4 linked regions of the Homo sapiens genome follow. The protein of the gene in region 1 purifies or fractionates together with the protein of each later gene. This does not show direct contact. Each region holds a gene or a part of one and is shown in the gene's direction. Other genes may lie near its edges.

Evidence for each region. Proteins that work in one complex are often made in the same cells at the same time.
Region 2: the proteins of NCAPH (region 1) and NSUN5 purify together in Homo sapiens (affinity purification with mass spectrometry; one large-scale study listed by BioGRID and IntAct). This does not show direct contact.
Region 3: the proteins of NCAPH (region 1) and LRRFIP1 fractionate together in Homo sapiens (co-fractionation; one large-scale study listed by BioGRID). This does not show direct contact.
Region 4: the proteins of NCAPH (region 1) and ST13 purify together in Homo sapiens (affinity purification with mass spectrometry; one large-scale study listed by BioGRID and IntAct). This does not show direct contact.

The regions. Positions count from the first base shown.
Region 1 is NC_000002.12:96,338,131-96,343,091, forward strand, and holds part of NCAPH (condensin complex subunit 2), read left to right. Parts: intron 1-3,511; coding exon 3,512-3,764; intron 3,765-3,919; coding exon 3,920-4,010; intron 4,011-4,625; coding exon 4,626-4,718; intron 4,719-4,961. UniProt on the Homo sapiens protein: Regulatory subunit of the condensin complex, a complex required for conversion of interphase chromatin into mitotic-like condense chromosomes.
Region 2 is NC_000007.14:73,305,850-73,310,911, reverse strand, and holds the start of NSUN5 (28S rRNA (cytosine-C(5))-methyltransferase), read left to right. Parts: upstream 1-2,085; 5' UTR 2,086-2,121; coding exon 2,122-2,214; intron 2,215-2,358; coding exon 2,359-2,481; intron 2,482-3,154; coding exon 3,155-3,329; intron 3,330-3,409; coding exon 3,410-3,518; intron 3,519-5,062. UniProt on the Homo sapiens protein: S-adenosyl-L-methionine-dependent methyltransferase that specifically methylates the C(5) position of cytosine 3782 (m5C3782) in 28S rRNA. m5C3782 promotes protein translation without affecting ribosome biogenesis and fidelity.
Region 3 is NC_000002.12:237,759,350-237,763,763, forward strand, and holds part of LRRFIP1 (leucine-rich repeat flightless-interacting protein 1), read left to right. Parts: intron 1-714; coding exon 715-856; intron 857-3,253; coding exon of another isoform or gene 3,254-4,414.
Region 4 is NC_000022.11:40,839,463-40,843,876, reverse strand, and holds part of ST13 (hsc70-interacting protein), read left to right. Parts: intron 1-3,184; coding exon 3,185-3,251; intron 3,252-4,414. UniProt on the Homo sapiens protein: One HIP oligomer binds the ATPase domains of at least two HSC70 molecules dependent on activation of the HSC70 ATPase by HSP40. Stabilizes the ADP state of HSC70 that has a high affinity for substrate protein.

The DNA.
Region 1 (4,961 bases):
TGGCCAGGCTGGTCTCGAACTCCTGACCTCAAGTGATCCTCCCACCTTGGCCTCCAAAGTGCTAGGATTACAGGCATGAGCCCAGCCTTGTTTTTACTTCCTATTTTATTGAAAAAAAAAAAAAAAAAAAAAAGCAAACAAAAAGGAACATCCCCAAGTCTGCCATTGCACCTGCTCCCTGCCTGCATCTGTGCCAGTGCCTCTGTCTTTTCTCCTGTTACTGAGGATGGGCTTTCTGTGCTCTCTACAAAGGCAACCTCTTTGCCTGCTTGAGTACATTGTTCAGCAAATTTTACCTTTTATTTTGGATGGTCACTGTGATAGGCTGAATAACACTTGCCCTAAAGGTGTCCAGAACCTGTGAATATGTTATCTTACGTGGTGAAAGAGACTTTGCTCATGTGATTAAGTTAAGGCTGTTGAGAAGACTATCATGGATCATCTGGGTGGGCCCAGTTTAATCACAGTGGTCCTTGTAAGAGGAAGGTCGTCGGGGTAGAGTGAGAGCAGATGTGATGACAGAACAAGAGGTTAGAGTGATGGGGGGACAGTGAGCCAAGGAATGTAGGCAGCTCTGAAGCTGCAAAAGGCGAGGAACAGATCCTCCTCTCAAAGCCTCCAGAATGAATGTAACCCTCCACAGCTGCAAGAGAACACATAAACGTGTGGGGGTTTTTTTGTTTTTGTTTTTGTTTTTTGAGACGGAGTCTCACTTTGTCACCCAGGCTGTAGTGCAGTGGCGCGATCTCGACTCACAGCAAGCTCCACCTCTTGGGTTCATGCCATTCTTCTGTCTCAGCCTCCCAAGTAGCTGGGACTACAGGCACCCGCCACTGCGCCCGGCTCATTTTTTTGTATTTTTAGTAGAGGTGGGGTTTCACCGTGTTGGCCAGGATGGTCTGGATCTCCTGACCTCATGATCTGCTCGCCTCGGCCTCCCAAAGTGCTGGGATTACAGGTGTGAACCACCGCGCCCAGCCACATGTGTGTTTAAACCGCTAGGTTTGTGGTCATTTGTGACAGCAGCCATAGAAAACTAATACAGTCTCTTTGCTTCATTCTTTCTACCATGCTGAGGTTTTTGTTTGTTTGTTTTGTTTTTTTGTCTTAAAAATTCCTCACTTCCCTTTCAACTCTCACCCTCTCATTTCTCTCCACCCTTTTACAGTAGAAGTCTTTGGGCAGGGCGTGGTGGCTCACGCCTGTAATTCCAGCACTCTGGGAATCCAAGACAGGCAGATCACGAGGTCAGGAGTTCGAGACCAGCCTGGCTAACACTGTGAAACCCCGTCTCTACTAAAAATACAAAAAAGTAGCTGGGCGTGGTGGCGGGCGCCTGTAGTCCCAGCTACTCAGGAGGCTGAGGCAGGAGAATTGCTTGAACCTGGGAGGCGGAGTTGCAATGAGCTGAGATCCCGTCACTGCACTCCAGCCTGGGGGACAAAGCAAGACTCTGTCTCAAAAAAAAAAAAAAAAAAAGAGAAGTCCTTGAACACCTTGTCATCGTTTGCTGTCTCCAGTTTCTCTTCTCCCATCTTCACTTGAACCACTCCAGTTCAGCTTTCTCCCTTACTACTCTAGGAAAACTGTTTTTGTCAAGATCACTAGTAACCCTAGGTTCTAAATCCAATGATCAGTTCTCAGTCCTCATCTACATAGTTTATCACATCCTCCTCCCCTAAAAATACTTTCTTCACCTGGCTTTTAGAATGCCACATTCTCCTGATTTTCTCCCACCTCACTAGTTGCACATTTCCCAGCTCTTTTGCTGGTTTCTCCTTCTTTATTTTTACTTATTTATTTATTTTTTGTGACAGAGTCTCACTCTGTTGCCCCGGCTAGAGTGTAGTGGCGCCATCTCGGCTCACTACAGCCTCCGTCTCCCGGGTTCAAGCGATTTTCCTGCCTCAGCCTCCCAAGTAGCTGAGATTACAGGCGCCCACCACCACGTTCAGCTAATTTTTGTATTTTTAGTAGAGACAGGGTTTCACCATGTTGACCGGGCTGGTCTCGAACTCCTGACCTCATGTGATCTGCCTGCCTCAGCCTCCCAAAGTGCTTTCCTGCTCTTTAAACCTTTAAAGTGTTCCTCTACTCAGTTATTTGGTGATCTCATCCAGTATTATGGCTCTGAATACCCTCTACATGCTGATGACTTCCCAGTGTGTGTATCTCATCTGGAACTTTCCCTAAATTCTGGGATTAGATACCCACCTATCTAACCCAGTAGGATGACTAATACTAATAAGCATCTTTTTTTTTTTTTTTTTTTTTTTTGAGACGGAGTTTCACTCTTGTTGCCTGGGTTGGAGTGCAATGGCACAGTCTTGGCTCAGTGCAACCTCTGTCTCCCGGGTTCAAGCGATTATCTTGCCTCAGCCTCCTGAGTAGCTGGGATTACAGGCGCCCGCCCCCACGTCCAGCTAACTTTTGTATTTTTAGTGGAGACGGGGTTTCACCATATTGGCCAGCTGGTCTCTAACTCCTGACCTCAGGTGATCCACCCACCTCGGCCTCCCAAAGTGTTGGGATTACAGGCATGAGCCACCGTGCCCGGTAGCCCAGGCTGTTTCTTAACTCCTGGCCTCAAGGGATCCTCCCACCTCAGCCACCCAAAGGGTAGGATTACAGGGATGAGCTACCATGTCCGGCCTTTTTTTTTTTTTTTTTTGGTTGTTATCTTTTAAGTTAAGAGACTAAGCTAGTTTTCTTGAAAACTGTCCTGCATTCTAGAGTGTTTCCTTGTGATATCATTTAACTTGTTCCTTGACCCCTTGTATTTCTTATAAACCAGAAGTTAAAGATCTAAAGTTCTTTGGTTAAATTTAGGTTAAACATGTTTGGTGGAAATATTTCCTGGGTGATGCTATGAATTTCACATTGTGTCACATGAAGAGATGAGTAACTTTCAGATTGATTTTTAGTGAGGCTACATTTGACTGGTTAATGTGGTGACTGGTAGAGTTTTTATTGTAAAAGACATTTTTCCTTTTGTAGTTAGCAAATAATCTGGATGATTCTTTGGAACATTCTATTTGTTTTACATGTTTATGTTGTTTTTCCTCTGTCTGTTTGCCAAGATATGGAGGAGCTGGAATTAGAGCCCAGCCTGTCTAACTCTATAGCCCATACCTCACCCTTGTCTCAGCATCTGTCTCTTCCTTGTCTTACCTGGCATGATGGGTTATATATGTCTGTTGTCCAGTTTGTGAGCTTATCAGAGGCAGCAATATTATATCATCCATTTTTATATCCATGCAGTACTTAAATTCACATAGCTGCAGAGTGGATATTTGTCCCAGATTAACAAAGAAGCATCAGAAACCTATGGCCTCCCCCCTGCACCTCCAAGAAACCCAAACTCTAGAGGTTCTAGCCATTAAGTATTAGAGTTGGAGAAGATCTCAGTGGACAGTGTGTGGTGAACCTCCACCCCTGTGACAGGCTCAAGACTTCTTTGGATATAGGAAATGTTCTCTTGAAGGTTTCTTGAGCAAGAATTTTGTTCCAGCACTGCCAGCCACAATGAATAACTCTTCTTCAGAGACGCGAGGACACCCCCACAGTGCCTCCTCTCCTTCAGAGCGTGTGTTCCCGATGCCCCTGCCCAGGAAGGCGCCTCTCAATATTCCTGGCACCCCAGTCCTCGAAGACTTTCCTCAGAATGACGATGAGAAGGAGCGGCTGCAGCGGAGGCGCTCGAGGGTCTTTGATCTGCAGTTCAGCACTGACTCACCTCGCTTATTGGCCTCCCCCTCCAGCAGGTGAGGTGCTCCTGGGCTGTTTCTCCTTGAGGCAGCCGCCTTGATATGGGCTGCGTAGGTCCAGGCATCTCCACAAAACTTCATGGGTCTAGGTTTTGAAAATTTAAACTATCATGGATTCTTGCCAGAGTTGTTTGTTTTTGTTTTCCATTTAGGAGTATTGACATTTCAGCTACTATCCCCAAGTTTACAAACACGCAGATTACGGAACATTACTCCACCTGTATCAAACTGTCCACTGAAAATGTGAGTATTTGCTGGTTTATTATTGAAGACGTAATCCCTTGATCACAGGGGAAATCCAGCTATCTTGTTTCTGTAGATAATGCACAATCAATGATGATAATTCTCTGGTGAGTCATCTTAGTGCTGGTGGTTTTACTGTTTACTCTGGACCCGTGGTGCACCTCCTGAGAGGCTGCCAGCTATCTGCTGTGTATCTAGAAAGGCAGCATGGCGCATGAGTTAATAGTAGAGTTCTGGAGCTAGCCTGAGTTGGAGGCTACATGCTTCTAAGCTGTGTGTGAGCCACCCAACCATTTTGCTTCCGTGTCCTCTGGAGAATGGGGGTAGTGCCTGCCTCATGAAGTTGTTTGGAGGGTGAGTCCCTTTGTGTGCAGTGCTTAGAGCAGGGCCTGCACACACTGAGCATTCAGGAATTTTGTGCCGTCATTCCCTAGCCTTGAACATGAGGACATGCCTGTGAGGATTTGGCTCTTGACAAGTGTTTTTGGGAAGAGAGATCAGTGACAATATGTGGGTATTCCTATGTAAAGACTTAGCTTCCTCTGTTAAAAGCAGCATTATTTACATGAGCCTAGGCTATAAATAACAATCCTTTCTGCAATTTTCTGTTTTCAGAAAATCACTACCAAGAATGCTTTTGGTTTGCACTTGATTGATTTTATGTCAGAGATTCTTAAACAGAAAGACACCGAACCAACCAACTTTAAAGTAAGAAGGATGTCCACTTTCTCTTGCATCTGAATTAAATGATGATGATTTCTACTACTTGGCATAACACAGTTGAATGCTGCAAATACATGAGAGACTTCTCATTTAGATGTTATGTTAGTTAATTTACTTTCTTTTCCTAAACTGATGAAATACAGAGAGAATATATATTCTGTTTATTCCCTATCAGTCATAGAGGGATCTTTGTCATTGCTTCCTTGGGGCAAGTAAATATTTTGTGAA
Region 2 (5,062 bases), on another chromosome or scaffold:
GTTGGCCAGGCTGGTTGCGAACTCCTGGGCTCAAGGGATCTGCCAGCCTCGGCCTCCCAAAGTGCTGGGATTACAGGTGTGAGTCACTGCGCTTGTCCTTCCTCTGCCTCTCTCTTATAGGGATACTGGTGATGCCATGCAGGACCTGCCCAGATAATCGAGGATAACCTTCTCTCCAAATCCTTCCCCTGATCATTCCTACAGATCTCTTCCATAGAAGGTGACATTTCCAGGCTCTAGGAATTAGGACCTGCTCTCTCTGGGTGGCCGTTGTTCACTCCATCACCCCACGTTTCCCCATCCTACCAAAAGACACAGCAGCATTGTGTGAACTGCCCAAACTGAAAACCTACGAGTTATTCTCGACCTGTCCTTTTTCCTGAGCAAGTTCTGTGGATTTAACTTAGCGGTCACACTGCCAATTTCAACCTAACTCCACTGCCACCAACTCAGTCCAGGCCACCAGTTCTTGTTTAGGTGACTCCCATGACCCCCATTGGTCTCTCCCTGCCTCAACTCTGCCCCCTCCATCCTATATCCCCACACTGTAACCAGACTGATTATTTATTTTTTGGGGAAAGAATCTTGCTCTATCCCCCTGGCTGGAGTGCAGTGGCACAATCTCAGCTTACTGCAACCCCAGCCTCCCAGGTTCAAATGGTTCTCCTGCTTCAGCCTCCCAAGTAGCTGAGATTACAGGTGTCTACCACCATGCCTGGCTAATCTTTGTATTTTTAGTAGAGACGGGGTTTTGTCATGTTGGCCAGGCTGGTCTTGAACTCCTGACCTCAAGTGATCTGCCTGCATTGGCCTCCCAAAGTGCTAGGATTACAGGTGTGAGCCACCACACCTGGCCAGACTGATCTTTTAAAGAAGTATATGTTAGCACAGCACTCCATGACTTAAAAACCTTAAGAGGACTACCATTTCTTTCAAGATAAAAGAATAAAATCCTCGCTGGGCACAGTGGTTCATGCCTGTAATCACTGCTTTGGGAAGCCGAGGTGGGAAGATCACTTTAGGCCAGGAGTTCGAGACCATCCATGGGCAACATGGTGAGACCACATCTCTACAAAAGATAAAATTAGCTAGGAGTGGTGGTGCATGCCTGTAGTCCCAGCTACTTGGAGAGTGAAGTGGGAGGATCGCTTGAGCCCTGGAGTTTGAGGCTGCAGTGAGCTATGACGGTGCCACTGCACTCCAGCCTGGGTGACGGAGTGGGACCTCATCAAAAACAAAAACAAAACCGTTATTGTGGCTTTGAGGCCTGGATCATACCTACATCACTTAATTTGGCCAAACCGGCCCATTTCAGGTACCCAAATACCCCACGTGCTTTCTTGCTTGGCTCTGGGACTAATGTGGTTACTGGTGCAGGGTGAATGGCAGGTATTGTAAACCACATTGTGGACCTAGAGTTGCTAGGACCTTTTTTGCCATTACACAGAAGCCTCCCTGAGAACACAGCCATTGGATGACACATGGCAGAGGAAGATAAGACAATAAACGGAGACACAAAATTATGGCCAGCGCGGGGGCTCATGCCTGTAATCCCAGAACTTTGGGAGGCCAGGGTGGGCAGATCACCTAAGGTCAGGAGTTCAAGGCCAACCTGGCAAACATAGTGAAACCCCATCTCTACTAAAAATACAAAAATTAGCCAGGTGTGGTGGCGTGGGCCTGTAGTCCCAGCTACTCGGGAGGCTGAGGCAGGAGAATTGCTTGAACCCGGGAGGCGGAGGTTGCAGTGTGCCGCGATTGCGACACTGCGCGACAGAGTGAGACTCTGTGTCAAAAAAAAATTATATATATATATATATATATATAATGACTAATACACATGTGAAGATATTTAACCTCAGTAACTTCAGTTAAACAGCAGTAAAATCCCATTATTTGCCCATCAGATTGGCAAAAACTTAAGAACTAGAGAAGAAGTGGCGAAACGGGCTGCAGCGTCGCACTCCCTACCCCGGCAGGTGCGCGATCACACACACGCCTTGCAGGGCGACTTCGACCGGCACTTCCGGTCCCGGAAGGTCGTGCTTTTTGACCCCGGAAGTCCGGGCGGGCGCCGAGCCGGGTGCGTTTTGCCACAGAGCCGTAAAGGCGCGCGGGAACATGGGGCTGTATGCTGCAGCTGCAGGCGTGTTGGCCGGCGTGGAGAGCCGCCAGGGCTCTATCAAGGGGTTGGTGTACTCCAGCAACTTCCAGGTAGCGGACCTGGGCGCGAGTAGTAGGGGTGGGGAGTGAGGAACCCGGGGTGGGGTCGGACGGGCCCGGGTGGGGTCGGGAGGTGGGGCCCGGCGAGGAGGGCCGGGGGAGCCCCCACCCAGCTTGTCTTCCTCGGCCACACAGAACGTGAAGCAGCTGTACGCGCTGGTGTGCGAAACGCAGCGCTACTCCGCCGTGCTGGATGCTGTGATCGCCAGCGCCGGCCTCCTCCGTGCGGAGAAGAAGCTGCGGCCGCACCTGGCCAAGGTGAGGGGAGGGGAGGGACGGGGAAGTGAACCCCGACGGTCAGCGCTTTGTCATCTGGTCTCAGCTCTGCTGCCGTGCACGGCGGGACTGGAGCAAGTCGCTCATCTGAAATGAGTATGAGCCGACCTTCCCTGGGTTACGAATTAAGATGGGATGAAAATGCTTTAACTTTGAGTGTTTTGAAGGATTAAATAACCGAAGTACAAAGTGGTAGTGGCGGAGACTGTAAGGAAGTCGGGCGTGGCGGCGCGCACCTGTGGTCCCAGCTACTCGGGAGGCTGAGGGAGGAGGATCACTTGAGCCCAGGAGGTCGAAGCTGCAGTGAGCTATGATCTGGCCACTGCACTTCAGCCTGGGCGACAGAGCTAGACCCCATTCTAAAAAGAAAACCCAAACCCACGAAAGGGTAATGTTGGCAAGAAGTTGGGTGCAGAGGTGTCTACTGGTGAACATCGGTGGAGAAAGGGTCTAAGGCTGGGAAGCGAGACGCCAGGTTCCGATCCTGTTCTGTAGTTAATTTCTGGTGTGATCTTGGATAAGGTATCCCACCTGTATCTTGTCAGGTGATCTGTTTAGCCATTCCATTGCCGGGGCTCCATTAGAGTTAGTTCTAAGGCATTCATGCTTCATGCTTAGGGCATTTTTGTTTTTGTCTTTGTTCCCTCATTCCCAGGTGCTAGTGTATGAGTTGTTGTTGGGAAAGGGCTTTCGAGGGGGTGGGGGCCGATGGAAGGCTCTGTTGGGCCGGCACCAGGCGAGGCTCAAGGCTGAGTTGGCTCGGCTCAAGGTTCATCGGGGTGTGAGCCGGAATGAGGACCTGTTGGAAGTGGGATCCAGGCCTGGTCCAGGTAAGCTGGAAGGAGTTGGGGGGTGGGGGAGGCGGGGAACTTTGCTCCTGCCTACTCACTGCTCATTGCGTCCTACGTAGCCTCCCAGCTGCCTCGATTTGTGCGTGTGAACACTCTCAAGACCTGCTCCGATGATGTAGTTGATTATTTCAAGAGACAAGGTTTCTCCTATCAGGGTCGGGCTTCCAGGTGAGAGCTTAGAGCCCTGGCTGTCCTCATCTAGGGAGGTGTCTGGGGTATTGGGAAGAGAAGTGGCTGGATAGTTGTGACTTTGCTCTCTGGGCTTTCTTCCTACCTTTCCAGCAGTTTATCCATCTCCAAGGTTTGTCTTCCTGCCATCCCTTAAACATCGAACTCCTAGGAGCCTCATCCTACATTCTTCTTGATCTCTCCGTTTTTTCTCTAGCTTTAACTCCTGCCTCCCACCTGGTGATTCTCACCACCCAGTGTAGACTTCCCTCTTGCATTCTTACCTCCTCAGGTTCATATGAACGCACCACAGATGCTAACAGTCGCTGCATTTGTCATCTTTCCTCTCAGACTTTACACCTAGTACATCCCCAGTTAAATCTAACAGATGTCACCATCTTCCACCCATTTGGTCAAGCCAGAAACTGAGTCATCCTAGGTGCTTCCTTCTCCTCCCTCCAATCATTTACTCCCCTACCTTGAGCATCTTTCTCAGCTCCACTCCTTTCTCTCTTTTTTTTTTAGACTGAGTCTCACTCTGTCATCCAAGCTGGAGTGCAGTGGCATGATCTTGGCTCACTGCCTCCCGGGTTCAAGCGATGCTCCTGCCTCAGCCTCCTGAGTAGCTGGAATTAGAGGCTCCCACCACCAATGTCCAGCTAATTTTTGTATTTGCAGTAGAGATGAGGTTTCACCATGTTGGCCATGCTGGTCTGAAACTCCTGAACTCAGGTGATCTGCCCGCCTTGGTCTCCCAAAGTGCTCGGATTACAGGCGTGAGCCACCACATCTGGCCTCCACTCCTTTCTCTTCAGCCCCTCGGACACTGCCTAGGTTAAGCACTCATTTCTTATTGGGATGACCACAAGAACTTCCCAGACTGGTTTCTCTGCTTCCAGACTGTCTCACTGCATTTTCCTTGAGGTTGACTGTAGGAAGCTCTAAAGCCAGATCTGATGCTGTTACTCCTCTGCTAAGCTTTTTTTTTTTTTTTTTTTTTTTTTTTTTGAGACAAGGGTTTTGCTCTTGTTGCCCAGGCTGGAGTGCAATGGCGCAATCTCGGCTCACTGCAACCTCTGCCTCCTGGGTTCAAGCAATTCTCCTGCCTCAGCCTCCTGAGTAGCTGGGATTACAGGGATGCAGCACCACGCCCGGCTAATTTTGTATTTTTAGTAGAGACGGGGTTTCTCCATGTTGGTCAGGCTGGTCTCGAGGCTCCTGACTTCAGGTGATCTGCCCGCCTCGGCCTCCCAAAGTGCTGGGATTACAGGTGTGAGTCACCGTGCCCGGCCATGCTAAGCCCTTTCTTGGCTCCACTGTGCTGTCCCTCCTGCTTTCTCTCAGGTCCATCTGCCACGGTGCTGCGTGCACCAGTGTGCCAGCAACAGTGGCTGGTCCCTGCCCCGTGCCTCCTCCACTGGGCTCACACCTGTCTCGTTTTGTCCTTCGTTGGCTCTGAGAAGCAGCCTCTGCCCCTCTCCCTTTCTCCTACTCTTTGTAAGATCCTCTTCCTTCTGCCTCTACCATGTTGCTTGGACACCAGG
Region 3 (4,414 bases), about 140 Mb from region 1:
GGGGGGTTCCTGAACCGTCACCATCTGCTGCTTGGCCTCCAGGGTCAAAGCCAGAGCAGTGAGCCAGCCAGCTACAGGCTTAGAGCTAAGATTCGTAATTCTGCTCCTTGAAGAGGCGATCAGTTCAGGGGAGTTCCTCACACACAAGGGAGAGAGAGCCACAGGCGGCAGGAGGGCATGGGTGAGTGATGTCTGCAGTTGGGAAGTGCTGCTGTTTTCAGTGAATTCTGTTTCTTTTGAATATACTGAACATTCTAGCCACCTCTGAATTCCTTCTTTAACATAAGTTTCGTGTGTCTCTTTCAGAACATGTATATATTTCTTTCTTTATCTGGTTTCTCTTTTTAAAGAATGCAATCAGGGTTTTGAAATGAAAGGTCACTTGGCAGTGACTTGCTTACTGCTCCACTTGGGGGCAGCCCACAGGCCACTACCTGTAGTTAAAAAGGATGCCTGGTGGAAGTAGCTTGTCACCAGCAAATGAAAGCATGGATTGGAACATCTGAGAAAGAAGTAGCCTTTGGAGGACGATATCCCAGATTTGTGTGTGTTGACCGAATATTTACGAGTGCTGCACCCTAGCATTTCTCTTGTCTCTGTGGAGTTACCCTGTACTTCAGGAAAAAATGGTTTTCTTTTTTATTATTGTATTAAAACAGAGTTTAACCTAATATCACTGAGTAAATATTACGATGAGCCTATTTTTGTTCCCAGAAACATGGAATAATCCTAAATTCAGAAATAGCTACCAATGGAGAGACTTCCGACACCCTCAATAATGTTGGATACCAAGGTCCTACCAAGATGACAAAAGAAGAGTTAAATGCCCTCAAGTCGACAGGGGATGGGACCCTAGGTAAGTATTTGCTTTCCTTCGGCTCCTCACACCTTTCCACTCAGCATTGGTTCACCCTCCATGCACTGCTGGGGTTGGAGCCACCGTCGCTGATGGGTTAACAGTCACCAGCATGCCATTTGTTTCATCACTTCATGGTAATTTCCTTGCCCACCCGGTGTGGTCACCCACGTGTTGTCTGGCATGCATCTCTGTGTAGTGCACCATCAATGGCTCAAGTGAACCTTTTCTTTTGCTGCTCAAAGCTACCAAGCAAGACTGTGAAGGCAAAAGGAAAACAGTCTCAAAATTAAGTAACAATGTGGAGAGTACTATTTGGTTTTCCTCAGACACATATATATCTGTACCTATAAAGTGTGGCTTTTTAAACCGATTCTATGACAGAATTATCAAAAGATCAGAATGGTTGAGGCCGTCAAGTCAGTTGGCCATATTTGCAAGCCAACATCGACATCCTGGGCAGCATTCAGCGCTTTGAGGGTACGGGGTGCCTGTGGACAGCAGGTCCGTCTGTGTTGCCTTTTTCAAGCCACCGCTCGAGGTGGGCAGGCGGCCGTGGTAGTGGGTGTGGCGGTGCTGAGAGTCTGAGTATGCCCACCTTTGTCAGAGGGGATCCTCCTTTGTATGCCACGTGTTTGCTTCTGAAAGAATATAAAACTGGGGAATCCAGTAGATCAGAGGAATATTTTATACCATTTTCAATGATCTGATTTGTCATAATTTGTCATAAGAGTTGGCTTTGGGAGAAACCTTCAGATTCTGGCGTGCAGCCTGAAGTTGCAGCGTGCAAGTGAGGCCTCATCTGTCACTGGTCACCCTCTGCGTTCCAGTGTTTTACAAAGAGGCTGGAATAAGGTCAGGGTCCGTGACTTTTCATTTTAATGTAGAAGCTTTCATCTTATTTCTTTTTATTTATGGAAATGTAGACACCTCCAGGCCCCATCTTCTCAGGCCTCGCATTCCAGGGAGGTACCTCATTCATTATCTTTATGACTATTAAAGAAACACAGCTCTTTTCAATTGTGTAAAAAAAGTTGTGGCCTAGTGCAGTGGCTCACACTTCTAATCCCAGCGCTGCGGGTGGCCAAGGCTGGAGGATCACTTAAGACCAGGAATTCCAGGCCAGCCTGGCAACCTAGCAAGATTCCGTCTCTAGATAGGTATGTAGTATCTATATACCGTTGTTGAGAAAAGATAAATTAATCAATTTCCATCATACCTTTATATGAGCTACCCGAACAGCTAGGAATCTGATTACGCTGCTCTTACTCAAATACACATTTTATAAATCTTTGATAACCATTGTGAAATGTTGTAAGAACCAGAAATGTCAGTTTTGAAAGTGGCCTTCAAATGACTTTTGATCACATATTCCTTCAGCAAAGAATTGTAGGATCCAATATGTATGTTTATTTTAAATCTACATATGTATACTATTTCATTAATATAAAATGTACGTTATAAAATATATGCAAAGATATGCAAAGAAGTTTTAGAGTAAAACTCTAAATAGAATTCCTAATATTTCCCCCATTTTCCCTGGGATATGGGCACCCCACCATGGAGATCACTGGGCTATAAAATTATCTAGCTTTGACTTTCAGTAACATAGTACCATATCTAATCTGCTGGGGTTTTGTTTGGAGAGTCCAAAAATTCCAAAACAGTTTGATGTTCTTTAGACGATGAATAATTTATCATTTAATTTAGTGGTCATCTTGATCTTGAACATTTGCCTCCTGCTGGTCCTCTCTCCCTAGTCCCTTAGGGAATGGAGCAGAGGTATCAGGGCATGGACACAGGGTGTTTTCTCAGGAAAACAATAGTTGAGTGGCAGAAGATAGATTTCCTTTCATATGAGCTATTTCAAAAGCATCTTCCTTGAGACTGACCTTGAGGCTGCATTTCTAAAAGTGCACTGAATATTCTTTTTAAAAATTACTTGAAAGCTGCTTTTAGGGCTGTGTGACATGGAGTGCAGTTTGACAGCTGCAAAAGTACAAGTTGTCAAGTTGTTCATTGAGAAGTGAGAGTGGGGAATTGAACCTTCAGTCTGTTCCTAAACCCATCATTGTGGATTGTTTGGCTGCCTGATCCAGAGTTCTTTCTATTTGTTGAAACTTAACGTCACCTTTAAAAATCTGTCCACACAAGATGGCACCAGCAGCCACTCTGGCCTTTGATGTGGTGGCAGTGGCCCTCACTGACCCAAAATTTACTAATGCAACTGCTGCTTTGCCGCACAGAACTGGCAAAGGCTTGTTTCTCATGACTCTTTGATGACTCTGTCTTTAGGAATAGGGGTGGGTGGGATTTGGAACGTGTGTTTACATTCTAATGTAGATTATGTGGCCGCCACATCATGGGGTCCCTTCAATTTTCTCAATGGTCTTTTAGGAAGAGCCAGTGAAGTGGAGGTGAAAAATGAAATCGTGGCGAATGTGGGGAAAAGAGAAATCTTGCACAATACTGAGAAAGAACAACACACAGAGGACACAGTGAAGGACTGTGTGGACATAGAGGTATTCCCTGCTGGTGAGAATACCGAGGACCAGAAATCCTCTGAAGACACTGCCCCATTCCTAGGAACCTTAGCAGGTGCTACCTATGAGGAACAGGTTCAAAGCCAAATTCTTGAGAGCAGTTCTCTCCCTGAAAACACAGTACAGGTTGAGTCAAATGAGGTCATGGGTGCACCAGATGACAGGACCAGAACTCCCCTTGAGCCATCCAACTGTTGGAGTGACTTAGATGGTGGGAACCACACAGAGAATGTGGGAGAGGCAGCAGTGACTCAGGTTGAAGAGCAGGCAGGCACAGTGGCCTCGTGTCCTTTAGGGCATAGTGATGACACAGTTTATCATGATGACAAATGTATGGTAGAGGTCCCCCAAGAGTTAGAGACAAGCACAGGGCATAGTTTAGAGAAAGAATTCACCAACCAGGAAGCAGCTGAGCCCAAGGAGGTTCCAGCGCACAGTACAGAAGTAGGTAGGGATCACAACGAAGAAGAGGGTGAAGAAACAGGATTAAGGGACGAGAAACCAATCAAGACAGAAGTTCCTGGTTCTCCAGCAGGAACTGAGGGCAACTGTCAGGAAGCGACAGGTCCAAGTACAGTAGACACTCAAAATGAACCCTTAGATATGAAAGAGCCCGATGAAGAAAAGAGTGACCAACAGGGAGAGGCATTGGACTCATCGCAGAAGAAGACAAAGAACAAGAAAAAGAAAAACAAGAAGAAAAAATCCCCAGTACCCGTAGAAACCCTTAAAGATGTTAAAAAAGAGTTAACGTATCAGAACACAGATTTAAGTGAAATTAAGGAAGAAGAGCAGGTAAAGTCTACTGACAGAAAGTCAGCAGTGGAAGCCCAAAACGAGGTGACTGAAAATCCAAAACAGAAAATTGCAGCAGAAAGCAGTGAAAATGTTGATTGTCCGGAGAATCCTAAAATTAAGTTGGATGGAAAACTTGACCAAGAAGGTGATGATGTACAAACAGCAGCTGAGGAGGTACTAGCTGATGGAGACACATTAGATTTTGAGGATGACACCG
Region 4 (4,414 bases), on another chromosome or scaffold:
CCTGATTCCTAATGAGGCTGAGCATATTTAAATGTTTATTGGCTGTTCACTGGCATTTGCGAACTCCTGTTTAAACTTTTTCCACTTTTTGCTGGATCTTTTTCTTACTGCTTTGTATTTCATTTCAATATTCTGGATGCTAATAATTTGTTGCTAGTGCTGCATATATTTTCTGCTAGTTTGTGACTCATCTTCACTCATCTTTCTTCATGTTGTTTCAAAAATAGTATCTTTTAATGCAGATATTTTCTGCTTTATTACTTTGAGGTTATAATTGCTGTAGTGCATTGCTTTTTCTCTTCTGAACATTTTATACACTCACCTTTCACCTTTAATCTACCGGTCCCACCAAAACTAAAATACACTGTTTCTGAATATTGTGGGTCTGTTTCAGGAGTTTATTGTTCTGCTTGTCTATTTTTTTTCTGTTCACTAATGCCACATCGTCTGATACTAAGTCTTGTTATTTTGTAGAACAAGGACCCCCAAAACTTTTTAGTCTTTTGGCTGTTCTTGGCTTTTTGTTTTTCCAAGTAAATTTTAGAAATAGGTTGATCAAGTCTCCCCGCTTCCATTGGTTTTTTTCCCCTTTGTTAGAATTGTGTTAAATCTAAATCAAGTTCGGGAAAAGATATATCTCCTCACCATTGAGATAAACTATCCATAAATAATGTTATCTGCCCAATTTTTAGGTGTTTTTAAAATATTTTAATAACTTACTAACGTGTTCCCCATAAGTCTTGTGCTTTGTTTTTTTGAGACAGTGTCTCACTCTTCCATCCAGGCTGGAGTGTAGTGGTACAATCATAGCTCACTGCGCCCTTGACGCCCTGGGCTCAAGTGATCCTCCCACCTCAGCCTCCTGACCAGCTGGGACTATAGTCATGCACCACCATGTCCAGCTAGTTTTTTATTTTTATTTTTAAAAATTCTTAGTAGAGACAAAATCTCAAACTCCTGGCCTTCCAGAGTGCTGGGATTACAGGTATGAGTCACTGCACCTGACGTAAGTCTTGTGCATTTTTGTTAAGAACAAATGTAAGTACTTTCTGTCACCATTTGTCAAAGGAAACTTTAAAGGTTAAATGTTATGTTTATTGATGGTATTACTTCTTTTATGATGTGTCTAGGTTTATAATTTTTTATTTATCCTGCTTGGGATTCAGTGAGCATCAAATTCTAGGGTTAACTTTCTTTAGCTCTAGAATATTTTCAGCTGTTATTAAATATTGCCTCCTTCTTGTTTACTTTATGCTCTAATTCTGGATCCCTGGTAATGTTAGACTTTTGTTATTAAGTTTCATTTCTTTATCACTCTCTGCTGAAAAGCAGTCTATGCTTTGTCTGTTCCATTGATGTTTGAATTGGAATGCTTGTGTTTTTCATTTTGGTACTTCAAATCTTTTTGAAGTCTACTTGGTTATTTGTAAGTCTTTTGCTCTTTACTCATTTTCAGAATTTACTTTTATTAAACACATTAAATTCCTTGTTGAACTCTTCGCTGGTCTTACTCTTATTTTTCATGGCTCTTGCTCATTAAGGTACCTTGTTTACTTTATGATGTGTTTGTGTGTTGTGTGTGATATTTTGAAAATGTGTTCTTTGGAACTTCACCTGTAGAAAAATTTTGAGGCCTAGGTAAGAAGGTGATTGCTTCCATGAAGTCTCTGAATTGGTGCTACCAACTCAAGGACCCCTTGAAAGTCTCAGCATGGTGTTTTTTTGTTTGTTCCAATTACTTTGGTAATACAGAATTCCAGATGAAAGGCTGGCTGTGGCTCTGAATTTTCAGGGGAAGTTCTTTTAATCTCACTACTCAACTGTCCGTTTCTGTAGGACAGGTTTATACCATTATGCTTGCCGGTATTAGCATTTGGAGTTGCAGATTTATTTTGGAAGGTGTCTGGTTAGACCACATACATTCTCTTCCTCTGAATATAGACTTTGTATCCTGTGTCCTGCATTACCTTCAAAATAAAATTGCAGCCAGGAGTGGCGGCTTATGCTTCTAATCCCAGAACTTTGGGAGAGTGAGGCAGGCAACTCACTTGAGTCCAAGAGTTCTAGACCAGCCTGGGCAGCATGATGAAAACCCGTCTCTATAAAAAAAAAAAAGCAAAACATTTAGTAGGTTGCGAGCATGTAGTTCCAGCTACACTTGAGGGGAGGCTGAGCCCAGGAGATGGAGGTTGCAGTGAACCGTGATTGCACCACTGCACCGGAGCTTGGGTGACAGAGGTAGACCCTGTCTTTAAATAAAACATTATTTTTATATTTAATATTTATTTTTTCTTTTTATTTTTTGTAGAGACGAAGTTTCGCCATATTGCCCAGGTTGGTCTTGAACTCCTGGGCTCAAGGGATCTACCTGCCTCAGCCTCCCAAAGTGCTGAGATTATAGGCATGAGTTGTATATTTTTTTCCTGTGGTTAAAGATCTCCAGAGCTTTCCATTTTAGGAGGATGTTTGCTATAACTCTTTGTTCTTTTTTTGCAGGGGTAGGGTGAGACATGGTCTTGCTCTGTGTCACCCAGGCTAGAGTACAGTGACACAATCAAGACTCACTACAGCCTTGACTTCCTGAGCTCAAGCGAGCCTCCTAACTCAGCCTCCTGAGTAGCTGGGACCAGATGCATGTGCCACCATGCCCAGCTTGTTTTTTTTTTTTTTTTTCTTTTTTTTGGAGAGATGGGATCGCCCTCTGTTGCCCAGATGCACATGTTTTTGTTCTTAACTAATCTTTATACTGTCAGCATCTTGTACAGTGTTTGGTCTATCTATATAGCATAGGTGCTCAATAGTTGTTTGTGGGAACAAAGGAATGAGACCTTTCTCTTCTGAGGATTTAAACCTAAAAGGAGCTAGTTATCTTTTTGTGAGGAGATTGGGTTTAATATTTATGGATAGCTAGGTAGGAGCTGGTATGCTTTGGTTGGGACGGAAGGTTAAGCAAAGGTTATGTCTCGGGCAGAGTGTAGGAGTGAAATTTGTTTAGTATAAAAGGTTAAAACTCGTATGTAATTTCTCACTAATGAGTTATCATAATTGTCTCTTTGTTCTCTGGAGACTACAGAAGAATGAATGAAAATGGGTATTGTGACTGCGCCTCATCCCTAAGAAAGTATGAATTGCTTCCTTCTCTCTCTCTCTACTAATTCTAAGATGATTTTTATTTTCTTCCTAGATAACGGAGGAGATGATGGATCAGGCAAATGATAAAAAAGTGGCTGCTATTGAAGCCCTAAATGATGGTGAGTAATCTTTTTGCTACATTTCTATGGTAGTCAGAATATTTATTGCAGTAACTTAAATAGTGGTAAAGTAGAAGAGAAGTTACATGTACCTGTCCTATACTGGAGAAGATAGTGTCCTATTATCCAGTCACCCCTTCCTCATTGATAAAAGAGGCTGAAATCACTTCTCTCTGCAAGGACAGATCCTTATTTGATTCAGTGTCTCTGATTTCCTGACCCTATCGTGGTGTTTTTCTGCTGAGAAGAGGCTTTAAAGAGGTGAAAGGCTTTAAAAAAAAAAAAAAAAAGTAGTAGTAGAACAGTGACCCTTAACTTTTTACATACTAATACCCTTGACAGATGATGTTCATAGGCATACCAATCTTCGTCCTAGTCAGAGCATGTTAGATTCTCTTGAGTAAATCCCCTCAGAGTGAGAAAGTGGTGATAGTATTCGGTTTTGTTTTTTGTTTGTTTGTTTGGTTGGTTTTTTTGAGACGGATTCTCACTCTGTTGCCCAGGCTGGAGTGCAGTGATGCGATCTCGGCTCACTACAACCTCCGCCTCCCGGGTTCAAGCAGTCCTCCTGCCTCAGCCTCCCGAGTAGCTGGGATTACAAGCGCGTACCACCATGCCCAGCTAATTTTTTGTATTTTTATTAGAGAAGGGGTTTCACCATGCTGGCCAGTCTGGTCTTGAACTCCTGACCTCGTGATCTGCCCGCCTCAGCCTCCCAAAGTGCTGGGATAACAGGCATGAACCACTGCGCCCAGCCTCTTTTTTTATATATATTTATTTTTTTAACTCTCCAAGGTAACAATAGGTTATTATTTTTTTCTTTTTTCTGTTTTTCAGTTGTATTTTATTTTATTTTTTATTTTTGAGACAGAGTCGTGCTTTGTCGTCCAGGCTGGAATGCAGTGGCGTGATCTCGGCTCTCTGCAACCTCCACCCCAAGTCGAGCAATTCTCCTGCCTCAGCCTCCCTAGTAGCTGGGATTACAGGCGTGTGCTACCATCTCCAGCTAATTTTTGTATTTTTAGTAGAGACGGGGTTTCACTATGTTGGCCAGGCTGGTCTCAAATTCCTGACCTCGAGTGATGTGCCCGCCTCTGCCTCCCAAAGTGCTGGGATTGCAGACGCGAACCACTGCGCCCGGCCCATGGTAGTATTAAGTGTAA